Homo sapiens: one gene and its partners. The protein of the gene in region 1 purifies or fractionates together with the protein of each later gene. This does not show direct contact. Each region holds a gene or a part of one and is shown in the gene's direction. Other genes may lie near its edges.

The links.
Region 2: the proteins of SAA1 (region 1) and CWC25 purify together in Homo sapiens (affinity purification with mass spectrometry; one large-scale study listed by BioGRID and IntAct). This does not show direct contact.
Region 3: the proteins of SAA1 (region 1) and PLEKHG3 purify together in Homo sapiens (affinity purification with mass spectrometry; one large-scale study listed by BioGRID and IntAct). This does not show direct contact.
Region 4: the proteins of SAA1 (region 1) and SAFB2 purify together in Homo sapiens (affinity purification with mass spectrometry; one large-scale study listed by BioGRID and IntAct). This does not show direct contact.
Region 5: the proteins of SAA1 (region 1) and PDIA5 purify together in Homo sapiens (affinity purification with mass spectrometry; one large-scale study listed by BioGRID and IntAct). This does not show direct contact.
Region 6: the proteins of SAA1 (region 1) and PHF3 purify together in Homo sapiens (affinity purification with mass spectrometry; one large-scale study listed by BioGRID and IntAct). This does not show direct contact.
Region 7: the proteins of SAA1 (region 1) and SAFB purify together in Homo sapiens (affinity purification with mass spectrometry; one large-scale study listed by BioGRID and IntAct). This does not show direct contact.

Annotation. Positions count from the first base shown.
Region 1 is NC_000011.10:18,265,127-18,269,063, forward strand, and holds the start of SAA1 (serum amyloid A-1 protein preproprotein), read left to right. Parts: upstream 1-1,137; 5' UTR 1,138-1,170; exon of another isoform or gene 1,171-1,317; intron 1,318-1,757; 5' UTR 1,758-1,761; coding exon 1,762-1,852; intron 1,853-3,937. UniProt on the Homo sapiens protein: Major acute phase protein.
Region 2 is NC_000017.11:38,804,822-38,808,321, reverse strand, and holds part of CWC25 (pre-mRNA-splicing factor CWC25 homolog), read left to right. Parts: intron 1-1,345; coding exon 1,346-1,557; intron 1,558-1,926; coding exon 1,927-2,025; intron 2,026-3,500. UniProt on the Homo sapiens protein: Involved in pre-mRNA splicing as component of the spliceosome.
Region 3 is NC_000014.9:64,735,424-64,738,923, forward strand, and holds part of PLEKHG3 (pleckstrin homology domain-containing family G member 3), read left to right. Parts: intron 1-1,429; coding exon 1,430-1,468; intron 1,469-1,932; coding exon 1,933-1,952; intron 1,953-3,318; coding exon 3,319-3,432; intron 3,433-3,500. UniProt on the Homo sapiens protein: Plays a role in controlling cell polarity and cell motility by selectively binding newly polymerized actin and activating RAC1 and CDC42 to enhance local actin polymerization.
Region 4 is NC_000019.10:5,589,138-5,591,776, reverse strand, and holds part of SAFB2 (scaffold attachment factor B2), read left to right. Parts: coding exon 1-29; intron 30-1,368; coding exon 1,369-1,499; intron 1,500-2,639. UniProt on the Homo sapiens protein: Binds to scaffold/matrix attachment region (S/MAR) DNA. Can function as an estrogen receptor corepressor and can also inhibit cell proliferation.
Region 5 is NC_000003.12:123,140,025-123,143,524, forward strand, and holds part of PDIA5 (protein disulfide-isomerase A5 precursor), read left to right. Parts: intron 1-3,500.
Region 6 is NC_000006.12:63,722,802-63,726,511, forward strand, and holds the end of PHF3 (PHD finger protein 3), read left to right. Parts: 3' UTR 1-3,210; downstream 3,211-3,710.
Region 7 is NC_000019.10:5,626,083-5,629,582, forward strand, and holds part of SAFB (scaffold attachment factor B1), read left to right. Parts: intron 1-322; coding exon 323-407; intron 408-3,500. UniProt on the Homo sapiens protein: Binds to scaffold/matrix attachment region (S/MAR) DNA and forms a molecular assembly point to allow the formation of a 'transcriptosomal' complex (consisting of SR proteins and RNA polymerase II) coupling transcription and RNA processing.

The DNA of each region.
Region 1 (3,937 bases):
GAGGAAGGAAGGAGGAAGAGAGAAGAAGGAAGGAGGAAGACAGAGAGGGAGTAAGGAAGGAAGGAAGGAGAAAGAGAGAGGAAGGAAGAAATGAAGGAAGGAAGGAAAGAAAGAAAAAATAAAAGAGTGAAAACGGACTGGAGAAGAAGAAACCACAGTTGCTGCTATATCCACCAGCCTCTCTGCATGTCCTGGCCTCAGCCCTGCTGGGCTCTGGTACTGACCACTTCCTTCCTTCCTAATTTCCTAATTGACTAGGCCAGCTGAGCAGGGCTTTTCTGTGCTGAGGAGGTAAATCTCTGGATATCTAGACTGAGGGGTGGAAGGAGCCTTCCAGGGCACACATGAGACATGGCAGGGGTAGGCTGCTAGTTTTATTTTGTTTTCTTTTAGACACAGGGTCTTGCTCTGTTAACCAGGCTGGAGTGCAGTGGCGTGATTATAGCTCACTGCAGCCTTGACCTCCTGGGTCTCCCACAATCCTTCCGCTTCAGCCTCTTGAGTAGCTGGGACTGCAGGTGCACACTACCACACCCGGTCCATTTATTTTTATATTTCGTAGAGACAAGATCTTACAGTTTTGCACAGAGTGATCTTAAACTCTTGACCCCAAGTGATCCTCCTGCCTTGGCCTCCAAAAGCATTGGGATTATAGGAGTGAGCCACTGTGCTGGACCTAGTCTGTCAGCTTTGAAGCTTTAGATATGAACTCAGAGGGACTTCATTTCAGAGGCATCTGCCATGTGGCCCAGCAGAGCCCATCCTGAGGAAATGACTGGTAGAGTCAGGAGCTGGCTTCAAAGCTGCCCTCACTTCACACCTTCCAGCAGCCCAGGTGCCGCCATCACGGGGCTCCCACTCTCAACTCCGCAGCCTCAGCCCCCTCAATGCTGAGGAGCAGAGCTGGTCTCCTGCCCTGACAGCTGCCAGGCACATCTTGTTCCCTCAGGTTGCACAACTGGGATAAATGACCCGGGATGAAGAAACCACTGGCATCCAGGAACTTGTCTTAGACCGTTTTGTAGGGGAAATGACCTGCAGGGACTTTCCCCAGGGACCACATCCAGCTTTTCTTCGCTCCCAAGAAACCAGCAGGGAAGGCTCAGTATAAATAGCAGCCACCGCTCCCTGGCAGGCAGGGACCCGCAGCTCAGCTACAGCACAGATCAGGTGAGGAGCACACCAAGGAGTGATTTTTAAAACTTACTCTGTTTTCTCTTTCCCAACAAGATTATCATTTCCTTTAAAAAAAATAGTTATCCTGGGGCATACAGCCATACCATTCTGAAGGTGTCTTATCTCCTCTGATCTAGAGAGGTAAGCAGGGTCGGGCCTGGTAGTACTTGGATGGGAGAACACCTGGGAATACCAGGTGCTAAAGGCTTTAAGAATAAAAAATAATGATCCTGCTTTGTGTTTATCCCATGTTGAGTTCTGTGCGGGGCAGAGGGAACACACGGTAAATGCGTTATGGGGAATTATAGGCTACTTGAGGGAGTGACAGTCTGGTGGTAACTCCTGCCTTCCTCCATCAGTGCCACGTTGGCATCCTCTTATGCAGTCAGGCTTCAGGGCTGATGGGTTCAGAACCGAGGGCTTCTGGCTCTGAGTGAGGTCCTGCTGCAAGGTTTCCTAGATGAGCCACTGAGACTCTAATAAGATCCAGTGGAAATAACCAGGCTCTCGTCGGAATATAAGTCCCAAGGGAAGCTGTGCCAGTCTTGTGGGCGACTGCCTGACTTCTCCTTTCATTTCAGCACCATGAAGCTTCTCACGGGCCTGGTTTTCTGCTCCTTGGTCCTGGGTGTCAGCAGCCGAAGCTTCTTTTCGTTCCTTGGCGAGGCTTTTGATGGTAAGGCTTCAGAAGGTTTGCAGGATTTCTGAAGAGAAACATCACCCTGGACCTGATAAACTGGGGAAAATGATGCTTTCGGAAGGCTGCTTTTGAACCACAGAGTTGCTAGTGTCTGCGTTGCTGAGGCCTGCCAGGAACTAGGGTTTGCTGGGTTGCCTGTCTCGAGTCTTTCAGAGCTGCTGGGAATATCCCCTTTCCCCGTAGTGCAGCTTCTCAGGATGTGTTAAGTGGATGGATCACATTTCAGAAGCCGCTGCAAGGTGTATCAAAAACACATCTCCTGAGCCGTAAGGGACGGGGCATCCAGTAACAACGCACACGGGGTATTTTTGGGCTTCCTTAAGATTTGAGCCGCTGCCTTAGGTTGTGCTGCCCAATGTGCCTGGGGAGCTGCTAAACAGATTAGAGAGTCGAGGATTGTTGTCAGTTACTCAGAGAAAGAACAATCATCCTTTCCAGGAGCACCTGAGCTGTTTGTTTTGCGTAGAAGATGCAAAATAAGGCCTGCAATGGGTATAAAATGTCCCTCAGCATAAATCGCATAGGAGTATGACTAAGGCTGTTGACTCTTCTGTCTTCTTTCTCCTTCCTCCTTCGATTTCCTAGTTGGATAATGTACAGGGCTCTTTAGCCTCGCTCTGTCAGGGGCTCCCTTCCTGGTTTGTTCTGTTTCCATTCTTCCTTCTCCAGCCTTCTTGACAAGAGCTGGGAACTAACGTGCCTCAAGCCCCCACAAGGACCACAGCATTTTCTCATTTAGTTTCAGAATGACTCTGTGACGCAATCTTCCTCTCTTGGAAGGTGAGAAAGCTGATCTTGGAAGGTGAGAAAGCTGAGACTTAGAGCAGCTGAAGCCAATGCCCAGGGACTTACTGCCAGTCAGCAGGTGGCAGGGCAGAGGTTTGAGCCCGGCTGTGCTTGAGGTCAGGGCTCTTGCCAGGTAGACGCATCACTGACCACCTCCTAGAGGTTGATGGTTATGAATCTCAGGCACACCTTGGCATCACCTGAAATACCCATGCCTTCAACTCCCCAGCAGAGTCTGCAGAAACTGGCCTGGGGTGTGGCCTGGGCACTGGGACTTTCAGTTTCTCTCTGGGTGATTAGAAAGTGCAGCCAAGGCTCACGCCTGTAATTCCAGCACTTTGGGAGGCCAAGGTGGATGAATCACTTGAGGTCATGAGTTCCGGAGCAGCCTGGCCAACATGGTGAAACCCCGTCTCTACTAAAAATACTAAAATGTAGCCAGGCGTGGTGGCAGGCACCTGTAATCCCAGCTACTCAGGAGGCTGAAGCACGAGAATCACTTGAACCCGAGAAGCAGAGGTTGCAGTGACTAGAGATCGCACCAGTGTCCTCCAACCTGGGTGACAGAGCGAGACTCCATCTAAAAAAAATGAAAAAGAAAGTGCAGCCAAGGCAGAGCACCACTGCCCTATTGCTTCCTCAAGCAACCCACAGCATCAGTACAGCCTACTAAGAAAGTATTTAGGGACTTTTATGCTCCTAACAGTCACTGGAACTCACGTCACAATGACGTGTATTCCATTTGCAAGAATATATACTTTAGGTCGGGGTGCGGTGGCTCACGCCTGTAATCCCAGCACTTTGGGAGGCCAAGGCAGGGGGATCACGAGGTCAGGAGTTCGAGACCAGCCTGACCAACATGGTGAAATCCCCGTCTCTACTAAAAATACAAAAATTAGCCAGGCGTGATGGCGCATGCCTGTAATCTCAGCTACTCAGGAGGCTGAGGCAGAAGAATCTCTTGAACCTGGGAGGTGGAGGTTGCGATGAGCTGAGATAGCACCACTGCACTCCAGCCTGGGCGACAGAGCAAGACTCTGTCTAAAAAAAAAAAAAAAAAAAAAAAAAAAAAAAAGAATATAAACTTTAGTAGTCAGGGCAGAAGTACTCTGTGTCTGCCACCTTTCTCAGCATCAGTATTCCATGTCACTACCTCATTCATACACACTCCTGGATCTTATCATAGGCAGCTTCATTCTATAGCAGTGGCTCTTCACCAGGGCACTTGAAGAAGCCAACTAGGATAAAGGAATGTGCTTCTCAACCCATGGTATC
Region 2 (3,500 bases), on another chromosome or scaffold:
CAACCTCTGCCTCCTGCATTCAAGTGATTCTCCTGTCTCAGCCTCTTGAGCAGCTGGGACTACGGGCACCCACCACCACACCCGGCTAATTTTTGTATTTTTAGTAGAGAGGGGTTTGACCATATTGGCCAGGCTGGTCTCGAACTCCCGACCTTGTGATCTGCCCGTCTTGGCCTCCCAAAGTGCTGGGATTACAGGCGTGAGCCACTGCACCCAGCCAAGCCAGGTATATTCTTTTCTTTTCTTTTCTTTTTTTTTTTTTTTTTGAGATGGAGTCTCACTCTGTCGCCTAGGCTGGAATGCAGTGGCGCCATCTCGGCTCACTGCAAGCTCTGCCTCCTGGGTTCATGCCATTCTCCTGCCTCAGCTTCCCAAGTAGCTGGGACTACAGGTGCCCACCATGCCCAGCTAATTATTTTGTATTTTTAGTAGAGACAGTGTTTCACCATGTTAGCTAGGATGGTCTTGATCTCCTGGCCTCGTGATCTGCCTGCCTCAGCCTCCCAAAGTGCTGGGATTACAGGCATGAGCCACAGCACCCAGCCATCTTTTTTTTTTTTTTTTTTGAGACAGGGTCTTTCTCTCTCATCCAAGCTGGAGTGCAGTGGTGTGATCCTGGCTCACTGCTGTCTTGACCTCTTAGGCTCAAGGGATCCTTCTGCCTCAACCTCCTGAGTAGCTGGGACTACAGGCGTGTGCTGCCACACCGAGCTAATTTTTAAATATTTTGTAGAGACAAGGTCTCACTAGTTGCTCTGGGTGGTATCAAACTCTTGATCTCAGGCAGTCCTCCTGCCTCCGTCTCCCAAAGTGTTGGGATTCAAGGTGTGAGCGACTGCACCTGGCTGACCGAAGGAGATTCTTTTAGGGGATTCTGCAGATAACTAAGTTTATACAGTTCTCTGTGATAATTCTATGTGATGATATTGGTGTGCTCAGTGAGCTCCTTATGTAACATTTCCTGTTTCACTGCCTTTTCTTTTTTTTTTTTTTTTTTTTGAGACGGAGTCTCGCTCTGTCATCCAGGCTGGAGTGCAGTGGTGCGATCTCAGCTCACTGCAACCTCCACCTCCTGAGTTCAAGCAATTCTCCTGCCTCAGCCTTCTGAGTAGCTGGGATTACAGGTGCCCACCACCACGCCCAGCTAATTTTTTAATTTTCAGTAGAGACAGGGTTTCACCATGTTGGCCAGGCTGGTCTCGAACTCCTGACCTCAGGTGATCCCCCCCGCCTCGGCCTCCCAAAGTGCTGGGATTACAGGCGTGAGCCACTGAGCCCGGCCGCGTTTTCTCCTGAATAGCTGGATTTTCCATGTGAATAACTTCTCTTTTCCTTAATGATGTAGGTCCGGAACTCTGACCGTAACCAGGGTCTTCAGGGTCCTCTGACAGCAGAGCAAAAGAGAGGGCATGGGATGAAGAACCATTCCAGATCCAGAAGCTCCTCCCACTCACCCCCAAGACATGCCAGCAAGAAGAGCACCAGGGAAGCAGGGTCCCGGGACAGGAGGTCTCGATCCCTGGGCAGAAGGTCACGGTCCCCAAGACCCAGCAAACTGTGAGTGTGGGATTCACTGGGAAATAACCTGTGACTGTGGGGGCCTGGTCCCAGCAGGCATTTGTTTTTGCTTTTGGTGATGTCCGTCCATTGACTTTCCCAAATGTCTTTGCTTTGGTATTTCCTTTACATCATTTTTTTTTTCCACCTCAATGTAAAGCTCAGGCATCCAAAGCCACATATCTGTAGGTGTATTCTGTGCTTTGGGAGCTCTGGGGTGAGTCTAACATCAAACCCTATACCTTTGTTTTTCTCACACTTAGATTATACCTCTAAGACCATTAGCTCATCTTGCATTGTTTGAGGGATTCAGTGTAAGCCCCTGGACCAAAAAGGCTTTTTCCTCTTTGCCTTCTGTGTCTGCTACAGGCACAACTCTAAGGTGAACAGGAGAGAGACAGGCCAAACTAGGAGCCCATCACCTAAAAAAGAGGTCTACCAAAGGCGACATGCTCCCGGATACACCAGGTGAGTCAGGAGCCCAGTTGATTAACCACATTTTGCAGGCCTGAATCTAGAAGGGGCTCAAACCATGGCAAATGGATAATCCATCATTACCTTTTCGACGAACCAACTTTTATTTATCTTGCCAACCTGTAAGGGTCTGCGTCCCCTGCCTCCAGCCATGTGAGGACATTGAAAGGACGAGGTAAGGCTGGGCGTGGTGGCTCACGCCTGTAATCACAGCAGTTTGGGAGGCTGAGGTGGGTGGATCACCTGAGGTCAGGAGGTCGAGACCATCCTAACCAACACGGTGAAACCCCATCTCTACTAAAAATATAAAATTAGTTGGTCATGGTGGCACATGCCTGTAATCCCAGTTATTTGGGAGGCTGAGACAGGAGAACTGCTTGAACCCAGGGGTTGGAGGTTACAGTGAGCTGAGATCTCACCACTGCACAGCAGCCCAGGCGACAGTGCAAGACTTTGTCTCAAAAAAAAAAAAAAGTCTCTTAACAAAAACCAAGCCAGACACAGCAGTCCATGCTTGTAATCTCAGCGCTTTGGGAGGCTAAGGCAGGGAGGATCACTTAAGGTCAAGGGATTAAGGTTGCAGTGAGCTACGATCAAGCCACTGCATTCTTGCTTGGGCGACAGAGCGAGACCCTCTCTTAAATTAAACCCTCTTTAAAAAACCCCTCAATTATTCTCTCTGGGTGTGGTGGCTCATACCTGTAATCCCAGCAGTTTGAGAGTCCAAGGCAGGAGGATCGCTTGAGGCCAGGAGTTCCAGACCAGTCTGAGCAACATAATAAGACACTATCTCTACAAAAAATTATTTTAAAAACATTTAAAAAAACAAAAGCTAGTAGTTCTTTGCCCTGCCTGATCCCACTTTTAGTCATGCTACCCAAAGGCAACTACTTTCAGCTTTTTCAGTAGTTTCTTTTCATAGCTACATATTCCTAAAAATACAAATATGTTGCTGCCTCTTCATCCATTAATTTTAGATATTAGATATTTTCTTTTTTCTTTCTTTGTTTTTTTTGGAGACAGCATCTTGTTGTATCTCCCAGGCTGGAGTGCAGTGCCACAATCTTGGCTCACTACAACCTCTGCCTCCGGGGTTCAAGTGATTCTCCTGTCCCAGCCTCCCGAGTAGCTGGGACTACAGGCACATGTTGTCACGCCCAGCTAATTTTTTTTTTTTTTTTCTGAGATGGAGTTTCATTCTTGTTGCCCAGGCTGGAGTGCAATGGCCCAATCTCGGCTCACCACAACTTCCGCCTCCTGGGCCCAAGTGATTCTCCTGCCTCAGCCTCCTAGGTAGCTGGGATTACAGGCATGTGCCACCACACCCAGCTAATTTTTGTATTTTTAGTAGAGACAGGCTTTCTCCATGTTGGTCAGGCTGGTCTCGAACTCCCAACCTCAGGTGATCTGCCTGCCTCGGCCTCCCAGAGTGCTGGGATTACAGGCGTGAGCCACCACGCCCGGGCTTC
Region 3 (3,500 bases), on another chromosome or scaffold:
CAACACAGTGAGGCCTCATCTCTACAAAATTAAAAAGTTAGCTAGGCATGGTGGTGTGCACCTATAGTCCTAGCTACTCTGGAGGCTGAGGTGGGAGGATCACTTGAGCCTGGAAGGCAGAGGTTGCAGTGAATGGATATCGTGCCCCTGCACCCACCCAGCCTGGCTGACAGATGAGACCTTGTTGCAAAAAAACAAAACAAAACAAAACAAAAAAAGAAATCAATCTGTTGAACTTGTGGGAACTGTAGACCACAAAAAGATCAGGAAAGTCACTAGGGAGGGACTTGGGCCACATGCAGGCACTTTACTGCCTGGGCTCAGCCATCTACTCTGACTTCCTTGAGGTTTTTTCTGCTTCTGCTTCCCACTCAGAGAGCTGAGATGAGCTGACAAGTGTATTCTATTGATAATTAAGTTCTATTGTTTAATTTAAATTATGTCTCACTTATTAAATATTCTTGATAAGTTTTAAAATGAAAGAATAGAACATTTTCTACTTTTCACTTTAAAAACAATTAGGCATTTACTTACATTGATACAGATAGTGTATGTATGTTGTGTGTGTCAGCAGAAAAGAGGTTCTTCAACAGGCCTGCCTGCTGAGGAACAGCAAGATACCTTGGTAGACTTTCCTTCTGACTCCAGGTGTGTAGCAAATCATGGCGATCCCTGGGCCTCCCACTTACCGCCAGCTGGGCAAGGATATGGATAGGCGAAGGCCGAGGCTCTGTAGAACTGGACCTTGAGACAAGGTCCTCTTATTCCTGCCCTCCAGTCTCAGGTGTATCCTCAAAAAGGCTGGGGTACACGGTGATGACACCATTGGCCTAATGGATGTGTTTTGTATCCTGTCCCCAGAGCCTGGTCACTCTCCGTACAGCCGGGCAACTCTCCCCAGCGGTCAGCGAGGCTTCGTGATGCCCAGCCTTAAGGGCCGTAGAAAGTCGGGTGCGACCTCTGCTTTCCAGCTGGGATGCTGTGAGGGGCTTGGCAGTGGGTGTAGCTGATGCGCTGATATGCTCATTGCCAGGGAGGCAAGGGGCTTGAGGTGGAGCCAGGGACCTCCGGAGATGTTGCTAGTTGGTCTGAAGGGGGTAGCATGGAACTGAGTCCCCTCCCTATGGCTCCTGCGCGAGGGCCCTGGGCCAGGTGCCCTAATGCATTGCATCATGGGTGGTACTGCTCCGGCAGGGCTGGTAGTCACAGCGGGGGTCCTGGAGATGGATGGGCCCGCCTCCCTGTCCGTAGGTGCAAGGGGGCTCGCCGACACTGTGGAAGGCAGCTTCCCTGGGGCCTATGACTGCAGGGGGCCAAGCCAGAGTGGACTTTGAGCTGGTGATGGGCTGGTGGCGCTGTGAGCTTGGGACCCAGCCAGGCACAGCAGTTTCCTGGCCCGCGCTGACTCTGCTCATGCTTTCCTCCTCAGAGCCAACCAAACACCTGCTCAGGCAACTCAACGAGAAAGGTGAGTGTGTGAGGTGGCCAGCCATTCCCAGTGAGCGGGGGAGGAGGAGGGAGGAGGGGAAGCAGCCGACAACCTGGGGTGTGACCTGAGGGTGGAGGATTGTCAGAATAGTGTAGAGGGAACTCTGCCTCCATTCCCCCCAGAAGAGGGCCTCGCCCCTGGCTGGCTGAGGAGAGGGGCTGGAGCTCTCCCCCATGCACAGGCCTCATGCCCTTTCCTCCGGAAACAATGAGAGCCGAGCAACAGGCACAGACCTGCGCTGCTCTGTGGCCCCTGGGCCCCTGCTCTGTCAGTCATTCTTTTGAAAGCCCAGGAGACTAGGTGAGGGTTCTGGGAGCAGGAGCCCCCAGTGAGGACTTCCCCAGGGAGCTGTCCAGAGGTCTTTTTCCTGCTTACTGATCTCTTCCCCTCCCCTCCCCTGCCCCTCGCCCGTGTGCTGGGGGACCCGGTGGTGATGTCTGCAGCCCGAGCAGCAGGAATGAAGGTAAAGGCCAGTGGGAGGAGGGGACTGGCTGACAGAGGAGGGTGGGACTGCCCAGGTCAGCCCCCGGCCCCTTCAGCCCTCATTGTCTTCATTCATTCAACAAATGCCTACTAAGCACCCACTGTGTACCAGGCTGTGTGGCTTAGGGCCACAGAGATGAATAAGACATGGGCCTTGCCCTGGGGGCCCTTCTGCACCCTCTGCCTAGAACAGCACCCTGCTGGGGGCCTGCCCAGTGTGGACCTACTCAGATTTCCCTCTCCCTAGGGTAGACAAGTAGGCAGGCCTGTTTGGGTTCTGAAGTTTTGACCAGGTCCCAGCCTTTCCACCATGAGAATGCCCACCCCTCCCTGGACCCCAGTGGCAACCTGAGTTGGGCATCTAGGTGTGGCTTTCTGTGTGAAGGCTCCCCCCCCGCAGCTGCCTGCAGGAGGACGGGAGGTTGCCCAAGAGGCTGGTCACGAGGGGGTCTTGTGCTCTGAACAGCATGCAGGCAGTGCTGGAACCCTCCTGGACTTTGGGCAGCCCTCCCGTACTCGGGGCCTGCAGCCAGAGGCTGAAGGGGCTACCCAGGAGGAGGAAGAGGAAGAGGAGGAGGTGGTGGAGGAGGAGGAGGAGGAGGAGGAGGAAGAGCAGGCCTTTCAGGTCTCTCTGGAGGACCTGACAGGGCATGAAGGCAACGAGAAGGGGGCTGGGCCGGAGCCCCCAGGCTCAGAGGAGGAGGAGGAGGAGCAGGAGGAGAGCCTGGCGGTGGCGGAGCAGGTAGCCGACTTTGCCAGCTCCCTGCTGGCCGCCCTCCACTGCTGGCACTATCGGGCCAACGCTTTACTTTTCTCCCGGGGCGCTATGGTGAGGTGTCTCTTCGATCTCCCCTCCTCCTTGCATGCTCCCTGGGATGTGCATGCCCACCCGAGGGCCCCCTCTGCTGCCCTCCTCACCCCACCCTGCCCTGGTTTTACTCCTCCCCTCAGCACTTAACACCATCGCTCGCTGTCACACCCTGGTGAGCCCCTGGCATGCTCTGTTCCAGTACTGGGCACTAATCAATATAACGCCCAACAAGCATGACAAGTGGGGTGGGGTGGTGGGGGCAGGGAGAAGCTAGCACACAGTGGGGCTGGAAAGGTCAAGTCCACTTTGGAGGGACAGAAAGGTGGGCTGAGGTTTTTTGAAGCTGCATGCCTGACAAGGCTTTCCGCAGCCCCAGGCCTGGCAGTTCAGGTTGGCTCTGGAATGGCTCAGGTCCAAGACTGGCTCTCAGCTCAGCCCAGCCCCTTGGGGCGTGGGAGGCACTGCCCGTGTTGGGATGCAGAAGGGATCAGCTTCCAGTTGTCTTGGAGTTGATGACTGACCTCTACCTCTGCAGGGAAAGGGGCGCAGGGAGTCTGAAAGCTCCAGGAGCAGCAGAAGGCCCAGTGGCCGGTCTCCAACCAGTACTGAGAAGCGCATGAGCTTCGAGTCCATTTCTTCCCTGCCAGAGGTGAGCGACCAGCAGGTGGGATGGGGATAGTAGGAAGAACTTGGAGTCCAGATTTTCAAGTCTGCAAA
Region 4 (2,639 bases), on another chromosome or scaffold:
CAATGATGGGAGACCACCGGGATGGGCAGGTGAGTAGAGCCCCGATGCCAAGCCCTGGGGCCACTGTACTGCTGTGCAGGCATAGCGGACCATTTCTAGCCAGGCGGCCGCTTGATCCCAGAGAGGTGGCAACCAAGTCAGCACGTGTGGCGGGTATGCAAGTGTGGGTTCTGGCCAGCGACTAGAAGTACAAATATTTAGTCGGACGTGGTGGCTCATGCCTGTAATCCCAGCACTTTGGGAAGCTGAGGTGGGTGGATCACAAGGTCAGGAGTTCAAGACCAGCCTGGCCGACATGGTGAAACCCTGTCTCTACTAAAAATACAAAAAATTAGCCAGGCATGGTGGCGAGTGCCTGTAGTCCCAGCTACTCGGGAGGCTGAGGCAGGAGAATCGCTTGAACCCGGGAGGCGGAGGTTGCAGTGAGTCGAGGTCGCACCATTGCACTCCAGCCTGGGCAACAAGAGCAAGACTCCGTCTCAAAAAAAAAAAAAAAAAAAAAAAGCGCAAATATTTGATTGTTTTGTAATGCTCAAGTTTCTGTCATTTTCAAATATGTTGGGCTTGTTCTTCATTGTATCCGGTAGAAACCTCATGTGTCTCTTCATTGTCCACTTGCTCAGGGAGCCTTTGGGTCTTAGTGCCTGTGGGGTCCCCCAAGAACCCAAATGGTGGTTGTCGTTTAGCCCACATGTGCCAGGGTCGGGGGGATGGGGGAGCCCGGGCTTCCCCATGTTTCAAGTCCGTGCTTGGTGGGCACGGGGGGCTGAAGACCACAAGAATGGTCCCTGAGTCTCTGTGGTGCCATGCGGGTGCCCCGTGCGTGGTGGCAGGGTGTGAGTTCTGAGAAAGCAGCAGCCTGGTGGAGAGGTGGGAGGTGGGCGGCAGAGTAATGGCCTGTAACAGCAGGCAGCACCCGCCTGCTTCCTGGCTGCTGGCTGCTCCGTGCAGAGTTGGTTGGCCAGGGAGGCCGGAATTGTGGCCCTGCCAGAGCACAGGGGGGCTGACCCACCCGAGGGCCCTCCTGTTATCGGAAAGGAGGCGGCGCCCAACTTCTCAGGGAAGACAGGGTTTGGTGACGTCTTAGTGGATCTTGAGCAGAGCTGTTGAGGGCAGTAATGCCAGGGTGCCCTGGCTCCTGGGGCAGCTCAGGTGGGGCAGTGATGCAGCTGTAGGGGTGCGAGGAGGGGAGCCAGGGAGCAGAGGGTCAGTGAAGCAGGGCCCAGCAGGGCTGAGACTGCACCCTTCAGTCCTCTCTCAGCTCCGCCCCACCTGCCACCCTGGGGCCTGCAGTGGACAGGCCTTCCGGAAGGTGGGCCTATGTGGGTGACATGGTCAGTGTCACCCTGTTCCTCTCCTGCCTTCCAGCACTATGGAGATGACCGCCATGGCCACGGAGGACCCCCAGAGCGCCACGGCCGGGACTCCCGTGATGGCTGGGGGGGCTACGGCTCCGACAAGAGGCTGAGTGAAGGCCGGGGGCTGCCCCCTCCCCCCAGGTTAGTGGGTGAGCCCCAGCCGGGTGGGGAGCATCTGTCCTAACCTGGGAAAAGGTTGGTGCCTGGCCAGGCACGTCCCCAAGGTTTGATTCAGCTAGGGGAGCTTTAGGATGGGCTACCAGGGGTCCTGCCATTTGAAACCCCTGACTCAGAAAGTCCAGGTTCTCAAGAAGAAAGCATAGAACAGGCTTTCAGGGATGGAGCTGTCCAGGTCGCCCAGAATGGCCCATCCCCATTCTTGAGCTGGGGGTCGCCTGCAGTTGTGAATGTCTCGATCATGGGCTGCGTACACACTGGGAGAGACAGCGCTGAAGCTCTTAGTCCTGCCCCGTCCGTGGTAGAGCAGCCTCGCCCCTGCCTCCACGTTGCCTCTTGACACGTGTCTTCCTCGGGTTTTTTCTCTGACCCCCAGTTGGTCTGGGGTGGATCTTCTCAACCCTATCCTGCCTATTAGAATCACTTAGGAGGACCCTCCACCCAGGACTCAGGGCTGAGGACACTGGGCCAGGTCCTCCACAGGTGTCCAAAGCCACCTTCACCAGCACTGCAGTGGGGGTGCTGTTCTGAGCCTTGTCAGCATTGGTGGGGGGCAGGGCTTGTCTGGGAGGACTCTGGGTGCCTCTCTAGTTTCTTTGGCCAGCTGCAGTCACCCCTGCCTGTTTGTCCTGTTGCCGTCTGGGCTGGCCGTGAGGAGGCTGGTGGCAGGACTGCTTTGCGGCTGCTGCCCTGCTTTCCTCTGTGAGCCGAGTGTCCTGTCTTGTCTCCAGCCCTGGCCCAGGGCTGCCTCGGACCCTGCCCAGCGCCACAGGGTGGGTTTTGGCCCCCTGTGCTCCCCCGTTCCATCCCTCCCTCCGCGCTGAGAGGCACTTCCAGCTCTGCCAGGGACTTTGACTCGGTGCTGTGCCGAGTGTCCCAGGACACCCGAAGCTTCTCCTGAATCTCTGGGCAGCACAGACGGTGGCAGTGCTCTGATCAGTTGGTGTGAAGTGTTCTCTCCTGTGAGACTTCATTAGCATTCCTGTCCTGTCGCTTGCTGGGTGTTATGGTAAATACCTCGGGAGTGTAAACGGGAAACTCACCCATGGTGAGCAGCGGCTGGGCGCCATCGGGTCACCGAGGGCAGGTTCCACACGGGAGCTT
Region 5 (3,500 bases), on another chromosome or scaffold:
TTGGGATAGGTGGTCAGGGAGGGTCTCCTAGAAGGTGAAATTTGAGTGGAAGCCTGAGTGGCTGATGTAAAGAGGGGTAAGCCGCATACAGACCTGGGGGAAGATGTTGGTATGTATGCTCCAGGTGGGTAGGAAAGAACATGTTCCAGGGCCCTGGGGTAGAAATGAACTTGGTGTGTTGGGAGAAGAGGAGAGCCAGAGGCTGCAGTAGAAGTGACCTGAGTTGAGGTTGAAGGTAGGCAGGACTCAGCTTGTGTGGGGTCTGTAGCCATAATAAGTTTGGATTTGAATCTACCTGTGATAGGAAGCCACTGTAAAGTTTTAAGCAAAGGGATCTGATCTGATTGATGTTTTGAAAATATACCCCGGCTGCCCTTAAATATCAGAAGACAGCAATATCACAGTCACAAAGCAACACAAAATTAAATGCCATAGAAATATCTGAATAAGAAGTATTTTGTAATTAGAAGAGAGACAGATCATTCGATGGGGCTACAGTGAACTGGGAAGACTCAAAGCAGGGGCCAGAACAAAGGTAGGATTGCGAGGGGTTGTCCAGGGTGGATGTTGCCTATCCATCAGAGCAGGGGCTGGGAGGAAGAGGTGGCAGGTGGTGATGGCCCTGGGGGATTTGTCACTTCGTCTTCCAGAGCTACAATTTCTGGCACTGTAAAACGGACCTACTGAGCTGTGTCATGTGTCTGGTGGGGCTGCTGCGATAGAGTGTGGAAGCCCAGCACAGACAGCGAGTGCTTTCCTTATAGAGGTGGGGAATTCTGGGAGCTGAGGCCAAAGCCCAGGAGACAGCCATGTGTGCGAGCTGCGGAAACTGGAGGTCTCCTGGTATTGACCCCAGCTGGCTTCCCATGCCTGTGGCAGACGTTGCAAGTTGGTCACAGCTCCTCTTCCCAGTGAGCGAGTTCTCAGACTCAGCCTCTGTCTCAGGCCCACCGCTGATGGAAGCTGGCAGGTGGAATGAAACCCACTTGCCACCCTGGCAGGGCAGTGGCATCAAAGGCCTGGAGCCTGATAAAGGGATGAAGTAAACCTCCCTACCAGCACACAGTGAATTCTCATCTTCAGGAGTCCTGCCACATCAACAGGGTCACTTTAGAAAGCAACAGTGATTCTCAGTGAATGGCAATGGCTGGCTTTTCTTTGTCTTCCCTCCCCTGATTCCTACTCCAGTCCCACTGTCCATCTTGACCATGGGCCCTGCCAGCAGCTGGCCTAACAGCACCATCCATATCATGGAGGGTATGGGGAGAGTGGTCAAGGGAGCCTCTCTTTCCTGCCTCTCCCACCTCCCTGGAGGCCACCCAGGGCCTCATGCCTGCATTTCCCGAGGCCTCCCAGTGTGTCCTCCACTATGTGCTGCTGGGCTGAGTCAGTCTGTCTCAGGGCAGTGGACCTTTGGGGACTTTGCATGGACCACTCACATCTCTCCAGAGCAGGTTGAACTCTCGGGCGATAGACTCACCGCCACAGGAGAGTCTCTGAGCTTCCTTCTCCTGCAGTTTGTTCATGCAGGGTGAGCCCCCTCACTCTGCCCCAGTCAGGGGAGGTCAGCCTGAAAGCAGGAGAGTGGGGGGCTCACCTTGGACAGGTGCAGGGAGCAGCAGCTTGGGGTTGCCCCCGGGGCAGGGAGATCCCTTTAAGAGCTGTAGAACTTTTTCATCCTGACCGTGGCCCCAAAGGATGGTTTACTCCACTCTATTTTAGTGAGAAGCAAAAAAATAATTTTTTAATCTTAATATACCTCATATTAAGTCAGTAGAACCTTCTGCAGATTATTCCATTTACTCCTGACATGTGGGCCAGTGTGGAAAGACATCTAAGCCTGGGCCCCTGTGCATCAGCTCTCCGTGTTCTTCCGCTTTGCCTCCCATTGGACAGTGATTGGCTTGGAGTCCGGTGGTCTCCTTTGTCCTGGGCTCCTAACCCCAGTTCTGTGAGCAAGTTCAGGTAGTCCAGGATCCCTCTGGAATTGTACATACATGTGGAGTATATGCATCAGTGTGGGGAAGGGGAGGAGAGGCTTTTGTGACAATCTCAAGAATGTCAGTGCCTGGGAGGCACAGACTCCTGCCCCAGCTCTCCCTGGTCCCTCTTGGAGTTCTTCCTCTCACTGCTGAGGTGGGGGTCGCTGCCTAGAGGGAGCGGCCTGCCTGCTGTCCCCACTGGATCGCGGGCTGCACTTGTCCCATTGGGAGCAGGCTCAGGGAAATACAAATAGCACTGCGTGCTTTTATGTTTCAGGTGCATCCTATTAAATGGGCTTTTGCGGTTGCCCCTGGGAATCTGCATGTAATCGGTGTGTAAAATTGTTTCTGAGGGGAAAACAAACAGCCAACTTACCAAAACAACCCTTTTGTGACTGGATTATTTAGGTAACACATGGCTCATGATGATGCTAAATGTTCATTTCTGGAAAGTGATATTCTTGTCATTCAAAATAATGATGACCTTGATACCTCTACAGCTTATGATGGGGGGATCCCAAGTGGGGTCTAGTCAGACCGTGAACTCCCAAAGTCATCTAACCCTATGTGCATTTTTCTGGAAGAAGGGTTTACCACTTTGATCATGATCTCCACAATGTCTGACTGCAGGGGACATTAAGAATATCTGCTGTGGAGAACAAGGCCAGGAACAGCCAGGCTGTCTTGCCCAGCCCAGGGGCAGCCTCTGGGGGGGCCGAGCTCAGCAGTCCCAGAGGAGCCCTTAGGAGCACTTTTGGGGCTATGTGCCTTGCTCAGCCCTGGCAGCGGAATTCTGCACTGCTGAATTGAGCATGGGGACGTCCTCATTTCTCTGAGGCTGCCCCTGCCCTCCTGACTGGGTCCTCTGTCCTCTGTCTCTAACTTGCCCACATGTGTCCTTTCATCTGCCACCTCCAGGAGGTCTTCTCAAGCCCCTGGTCAACCCAGGAGTTGTCTACTAATTATTTAATTAGGTCTCTTCATTGCTGACCAGTAAATATTTATCATGTATCTATTAAATGGTGATCCTTTTGCTTCATGGGGAGGTACAAGGTAAAAAAAAACCTCAGGTCCCACCTTTAGAGAGTCACCATCTGGGGCTGGGCATGGTGGCTCACACCTGTAATCTCAGCACTTTGGGAGGCCAAGGTGGGTGGATCACAGGTCAGGAGATCGAGACCATCCTGGCTAACACAGTGAAACCCCATCTCTACTAAAAATACAAAAAATTAGCTGGGCGTGGTGGCACATGCCTGTAGTCCCAGCTACTCGGGAGGCTGAGGCAGGGGAATCACTTGAACCCAGGAGGCGGAGGTTGCAGTGAGCTGACATCGTGTGCCACTGTACTCCAGCCTGGGTGACAGAGCGAGACTCCATCTCAAAAAAAAAAAAAAAAAAGAGAGGCACTGTCTGGTACCTAGAGCCCAGCATGATGAGTGTGTAGTGTGGGTACAATATGTAATAGGGCTACAAGCAGCTGCCGGCTCCCCTGGGGCTGCCAGGGCAGGTGGAGTGCTC
Region 6 (3,710 bases), on another chromosome or scaffold:
GGTCTATACCAAGCCATTCTAGACTGGTTGGAATGTTTGGCAGCTCTATAGTTCTTCACCTATCAAACTACGTTCTCTAGCTTTATTTTCCTCATAGGGAATTTTTAGTGAGTATACTATGTCGTTACATATGTGATATTTGGTTAACAGCTGCTTTATCCACTAGGTTGTAAGCTTTATGAGAACAGGGTCTGTGTTTGGTTTGGTCCAACAGTTGATTCCCAGCACCCAAAACGGTATCTGGCCCATAAATAGATGCTAAATAATTATTAAATAAAGAAATACGTTTGTAGGGTTGTGGGTTGAGATGACTCAGAATATTTCTCAAATAATAGTTTTAGCTTGAAAGCAAAAACTTTTTTCCTATAATGACATGAAAATTGTTTTAAAAATTCATAACAAAGAAACTCAGTTTATTTGCATAATTTCTAACATGTATAGCATTTTTAACTATAAGGAAAGAGAAGCAACATTATAAACTTTCAGATTAGGAAAGAAAAAATATACATTGGGTTATACCACCAAAAACTGGAACAAGTAAACATAATTGATAATTAAGTTCAAAAAATTTATAGCAACCTAAATATACTTTGTGGCCTGCAAGTGAACACAAACCAGTTATCTTTTGCAAGATTATGGAGGAAGCTTTTCTTGCTCCTTGTGTTGTAGAGTGTTCCTGTAGTAAACAATTTTATAGTGAAGAGCTACATTAGAATAAAAAATATCTAAGAAATGATTAGGAAAGCTGAAGCTGTGATCTATACTATCACTGGTCATGTTGCCAACCAGAAGAAAGAGCAAGGATAGCTTCTGCGAAGAAAGGATTATTTTAACTCAGCTAGTATGTTCTTACGAAAAATTGACAAAAAGTTTTCTTTCTGTGGCTATGGAAGCTAAAAGCTGTATTAGCTTAAAAAATCATAGACTTTTAAATTTCATTGCGTTAGGATATGATGCTCTAGTTATGGGTCATAAGTACACATTGGCATTATTATTATTATTATTATTATTATTATTATTATTATTATTATTATTTTGAGACCAGAGTCCTGCTCTGTCCCCCAAGCTGGAGTGCAATGGTGCAATCTCGGCTCACTGCAACCTCCATCTCCCGGGCTGCCTCAGTTTCCCGAGTATCTGGGACTACAGGCACTGGCCATCACGGCCGGCTAATTTTTGTATTTTGGGTAGAGCGAGGTTTTACCATGTTGGCCAGGCTGGTCTTGACCTCCTGACTTCAGGTGATCCGCCCACCTCGGCCTCCCAAAGTGGTGGGATTACAGGCATATGCCACTGCACCTGGCCTTGGATTCGCATTAGAGTAAGAAAATGTAATGAACAGTCCTTACAAGAAACAGAGCTCAAATAGGATAAAGATCATAAATGAATTCACTTTGGCTATTTAATGCCCACTCAACCATGGCTGAGGCTTCTCCCACCTTTGTTCTGCTATTGTTTCTACCTCATCATCTGCTATCCCACCGTGCTTTATTATAGATAAGAGAAACCTTGTAGGACCTAATATTTGTGAAGAGACTACAGAATCAGCATATCAGGGGAATTGTATATACATTTTTTTCTGTAGAAAAGGAAAGCAATGGTAATTTAAACTTATTTATATATTTTTAATATAGTTTAATTATTTGAGTATGTTTTAACTTCACATTGCAATGACTAGGCCTTTTTATACACGTTGGGAGGATTATAACTATATCAGATGAATTCAGGCTTTGATTAATTTGTGCTTAACAAAATGTTGATAATTTTTATATATCAAAAATCTTTTAAAGGTGTTAAATTTTTAGCAGAAATAGATGAAAAGGGACCAGAGTCTTATTTCTTTAAAATATCTTTCAAAAATCAGAGATCTGAGATCATCTAGTATAATTTTCAAGTTATCATTTTGTTTTAAATTTTACACTACTTGAGAGTACTCAAATTATTAACCTCTAAAGAGATACAGAAACCATGTTAATTTAGAATTTGGTTTTCAATATGTGAAAACCACATTGGCTGCTTTTATTAAAATTTTTGGATTTTAACTTTGTGTATTGTTTGGTTAGTTTTTACTAATAGGTCCTCTTAGCAGAGGATCAACTATGAAGACTTGGTTAATGTTTACATCAGGCACAGTTCTTAGAGAAGGTACAAAGTACAGGACTGTCAGCTGCATTTTCTGCAACCTTAAATAAATGAGAGACTTCAAATAAACTTGTTATATCACTTGATTACTAAAAAATAAGTTTATGCCTTTCATCTGATAATTGTTTTTGGTTAATCTAGGTTTAAGCATGTAGAACTTATATTTTTAATATTTAAAAATTTTCATGATTTTCTTATATAAGTGTCAAATGCAGCATCAATCGTGTGAAACTAATGAATCTCTGTAAGTAGTGTCTGATGGCATAAAAAAGGAAACTCTTGATTGTCTTGAACTACATGCATTGAATAACAGATGTAAGAAGATGTGCTCTTGCCCTCCTATGTGTATTAGTGTGTATGAGCTTTATATTTCATATACACAAACAAATATGTATCGTTGTACTGATTATAAAACTGTAGTACAATATTCCCAGCCAGTCACAATCCTGAATATACCTTGATTTTCTGCCCTCTTACATAGGTCCCACTTAACATTAATTTTGAGTTTTATTAGCAATATAACTGAAGCTGATTGTCTTTTAATGTCTCTTGATTTATAAATAGAAAATTTATGTTTGTATGTGGTTCTCCTATTTGACATTTTCACAGGGAGATTTAATCATGAATTTAAAACCAAATATCTCAGGAGAACAAATTTCTTCTGAGCTGTATTTTATAGCTCAATTGTACTTTTTCTCTTTGAAATTATTTTGAGGGTATTTCAGAAGTGCATTGAGGTGGAACCACTTTGGTCGAATTCCCTGATATTCTTATCATTTAGAAGCAAGTCAAGACACTTCTATAAGAACTACTTAGATTATGATCATTAGAGCACCATTTTTGCTAATGATGTGAAATTTAGCAAATGTAATTATTTCTCAATATCAAAATTGTTTCTCATTTTCTGAGAGACAAGATCAAAGAAAGTCAAATGTAAGATTTTAAAAATACTTAGCAATAGAGATGTAACTATATGTGCAGATGTCTTTGTCAGAATTTTGGAGAAATGAATGAAAATGGATATCAAGGGTAAAGTAAAACCTAAAAAATTAAATTTTAAAACACTAATTGGATACTTTATTTCATATTTTATGATAAATATGTACCTTTTAAAATCCTAAAATGTTTTTGTAAGCATTTCAGAACACAAATCCTGGGTTTACTGTTTGGATGACAGAACAACTTAAAGAGAATTTTTGGAGCTATAAATGTGGTTGAATCTACAGGAAATGTATCAGCCATGCCTTCCTTTTAAAAAATCTTTTATATGCATATTTTGTCTCCTTTGACATAGTACTATCGTGCATGGCTTTAATGTCTTTTTTGATGGTATTGTTTTTAAGTTGAGCATATACTATATTTAGATTTTGCAAACTTTAATTCCAACAAATCTGTTGCTATTTTATTAGAATATCTAGGGCTTCTAAATTCATACGCATACACTTGCAGTGACAATAGAACATAAAAGCATCAAATGTTTACATATTTAAATACTAGGTGACACAAACACTATCATACATTACTTAATAGACTATTAGGAATTCATTCTGCAAACAAACAGCCTGCCA
Region 7 (3,500 bases), on another chromosome or scaffold:
TTTTCATGGCTAGTAGAGTCCTCACAACAGCCTTCCAGGGTAAGTACTGTATTATTATTAGCCGCATGTTCCAGAGGAAGAAGCAAAAACTGAGCACCTAAGTAAACCTGCCTGGGACCACCCAGCTAAGAACTGGTGGCGTCAGTCGGTCTCCAGTGTAGAGCGAGATAACAGATGAGTGGATGGGCCACAGGTCCTGGGTGGTGAGGGCGGCAGCAGCTTTTTGATCTTAAAAATACAGTTTCCTTGTCACCTGAGAGCTCTCTGAAAGCAGTGTGTGAGCTGACTTTTTGGATCAACTTTACTTTTCCCTTCTTTTTAGGCAATTGAAGATGAAGGTGGTAATCCTGACGAAATTGAAATTACCTCCGAGGGAAACAAGAAAACATCAAAGAGGTCTAGCAAAGGTATGGAGGATTTCATAAGCAAGTTTCATGTTAAGTGCTTTCTTCAAAACGAATACATTGCTAATGTGCCTCGTTTACTTGTCTGTGTGTTGGACTTGTGAACCACTCTGAACTGGGAGCCTTCAGCGAAGCTTTGCATTTTCTTTCAAGATCTCTCTACTGTGTTTTGTTTTCTTGGTATCTGGGAATTCCAATGGAGGATGGAAGGAGTATTTGTCCTTTATTCATTTTCCTCTGTAGATTGTCAGCGGTCCTTAAATAAGGAGTCTTTTGGGAGTCAGTCACAGTGGCGTGTGCCTGTAATTCCAGGCGACTCGGGGCTGTGGTAGGAGGATCACATGAGCCTGGGAGTTCAAGACCAGCCTGGGCAACATAGCAAAACCCAGCTCTACAAAAAAACTTTTAAAGGCCCGGTGTGGTGGCATGCATCTGTGGTCCCAGCTGCTTGGGAGGCTGAACCGGAAGGATTACTTGACCCCAGGAGGTTGAGATCAGCTTGGGCAACATAGGGAGACCCCCATCCCCACCAAAAAGAAATTAGCCAGGCATGATGGCATGCACCTGTGATCCCAGCTACTTGGGAGTTTTAGGAGGGGGATCACTTGAGCCCAGGAGCTCAAGCCTGCAATGACCTAATGATTGCACCACTGCACTCCAGCCTGGGTGACAGAGCAAGACCCAGTCTCTCTTAAAAAAAAGGGGGGTGGGGGCGGGGCACAGTGTCTCTCACCTGTAATCCCAACACTTTGGGAACCCAAGGCAGGAGAATGGTTTCAGTCTAGGAGTTTGAGACCAGCCTGGGCTGCCTCTATCCACTGCCAAAAAAAAAAAGTACCTAGGCGTCGAGGCACGCCTGTTTTCCTAGCTACTTGGGAGGCTAAGGCGGGAGGATCATTTGAACCCAGGAGTTCAGGGTTGCACTGAGCTATCATGGCACCACTGAACTCCAACATGGAGTCCAAAAAGTAGGACTGCCTGAGCCTCCTATTGCTTGGACTTGGAGAAAATAACATCCCTTATAAACAGCACTTGGCAAAAACAGAATTGTCACTTTAACATTTCTTTTAAAAGCAGCTTATACAGTAAAAGTCACATTCCACATGACATGACTCTCACCATCTTACCGAAATCTCTCTTGCCCATCCCCCACACCCTGTGCTTTAGTCAGGCCCCAAACACGTGATTTACTCTCCTGGTTCTCTGTGACTTCGCTCCGCCCACCCTTCCCCATCTGTCTGCCTTAGAGACCTAGTTCCTCAAAAGACAACTGATCCATCCCACCAATAGCAACTCGTCTCCTTGGGTCCTCTGTCCTCCCGTGGCATAGTTCCTTACCCCTTGGTTTAATATTTATGTCATCTTGCCTTCTGTCAAGAGCAGATTGATGAGGACTAGGGCTGTGTCTTGTTTATCTTTCTTTCCCCTTCAATGGTTTAACTTGGTAACACTCAACTATTGGCTTAAGAAAGAATCAGCTGAGGCAGGGCGCCGTGGCTCACACCTGTAATGCCAGCACTTTGGGAGGTTGAGGCGGACTGGTCACCTGAGGTCAGGAGTTCGAGACCAGCCTGGCCAACATGATGAAACCCCGTCTCTACTAAAAATATAAAAATTAGCCAGGTGTGGTGGCGGGCTCCTGTAATCCCAGCTACTCAGGAGGCTGAGGCAGGAGAATTGCCTGAACCCAGGAGGTGGAGGTTGCACTGAGCCCAGATCGCACCACTGCACTCCAGCCTGGGCGACCGCAAGACTCCATCCCCCTAAAAAAAAGAATCAGCTGAAGCTGGGCTTGTAGACCGAATGTTCTCTTGGTTCATGTAGAGTTTTCCCTATCTGAAATGCTTGGGACCAGAAGGGTTTCATTTTTTGGATTTTGTGCGGTATTTTCGTACGCATAATGAGATAATCTTGGGATTGGGGCCCAAATCTAAACAAGAAATTTGTTTCTTATACACCTGAAGATAATTTAATACCATATTTTTTATAATTTTGTGCATGAAACAAAACTTTCACTAATTCCACACATCAGGTGTGGAATTTTCTACTTGTGGCAATATGTCAGTGCTCAGAAGGTTTCAGTTTCAGATAGGGTTGCCCAACCTGTAATTGAAGGCCTGGTTCTCAGGGCCCAAAACTAAATGAGATAATAACTAATACTTGGTGGTGAAGTACTGGGTTTAAATATCTGAGAGTCAGGCCCCAGTGTCAGCCACAGTGTTTGGGGTAAGTGCTGGGAGAACAGCAGAATGAAGTCACTTCTGTGGCTCATGATACATTGCGTGTTTTTGCCTTTACTCAAGTATACTTCTGCCAAGGCAAAGAGTCCTGGAAAATCAATGGAGAAAGAAATAATAAAAGCAAAAAACAGAGCCTGTGGATCTCCTTTTTTGTTTTCCTTTTTCTTCTGATAAAAGCAAATACTTGTACTACAGGCTTTTGTTGCTGTTTTTGTTTTGTTTTTGAGGTGGGTTCTCACTCTGTCACTCAGATGGAGGGTAGTCGCGCAGTCATAGTTCGCTGCAGCCTTGAACTCCTGGCCTCAAGCAGTGCTTTCACCTCAGCCCCACAAAACGTTTAGATTTCAGTTGTGAGCCACTGCGCCCGGCAGGTTTTAAAATACGTGCATGGGAGTAAAAAGCAGAAGTTGTTCACAGTCGGGACAGCCCACTACTAAAAGTTAGGCATACTTCTCCAGACTGTGTGTGTATGTACAATGTTTAAAAGTAAACTTAGGCCTGGGTTACAGAGCAAGACCCTGTGTCTAGAAAAACAAAAAGTTAAATAAAAGTCAATGAGCTGGGCATGGTGGCACACACCTGTAGTCCCAGCTACTAGGGAGGCCAAGGTAGGAGGATTGCTTAAGCCCAAGAGGTCAAGGCTGCGGTGAGCCATGAGTGTGCTTCTACACTCCAGCTTGGGCACAGAGTGAGAGGGGGAAAAAAGTAAATATATAGGTATGTGCACACACCTGTATGCATATTTTTTTCATTAAAAAAACCCGTGATCTTGCTATACAAAATCTCACTGTTTTTTAACAGGCTAATAATCTTCTGTATGAATAAATACACAATTTAGCCCATCAGTCTTTTTATT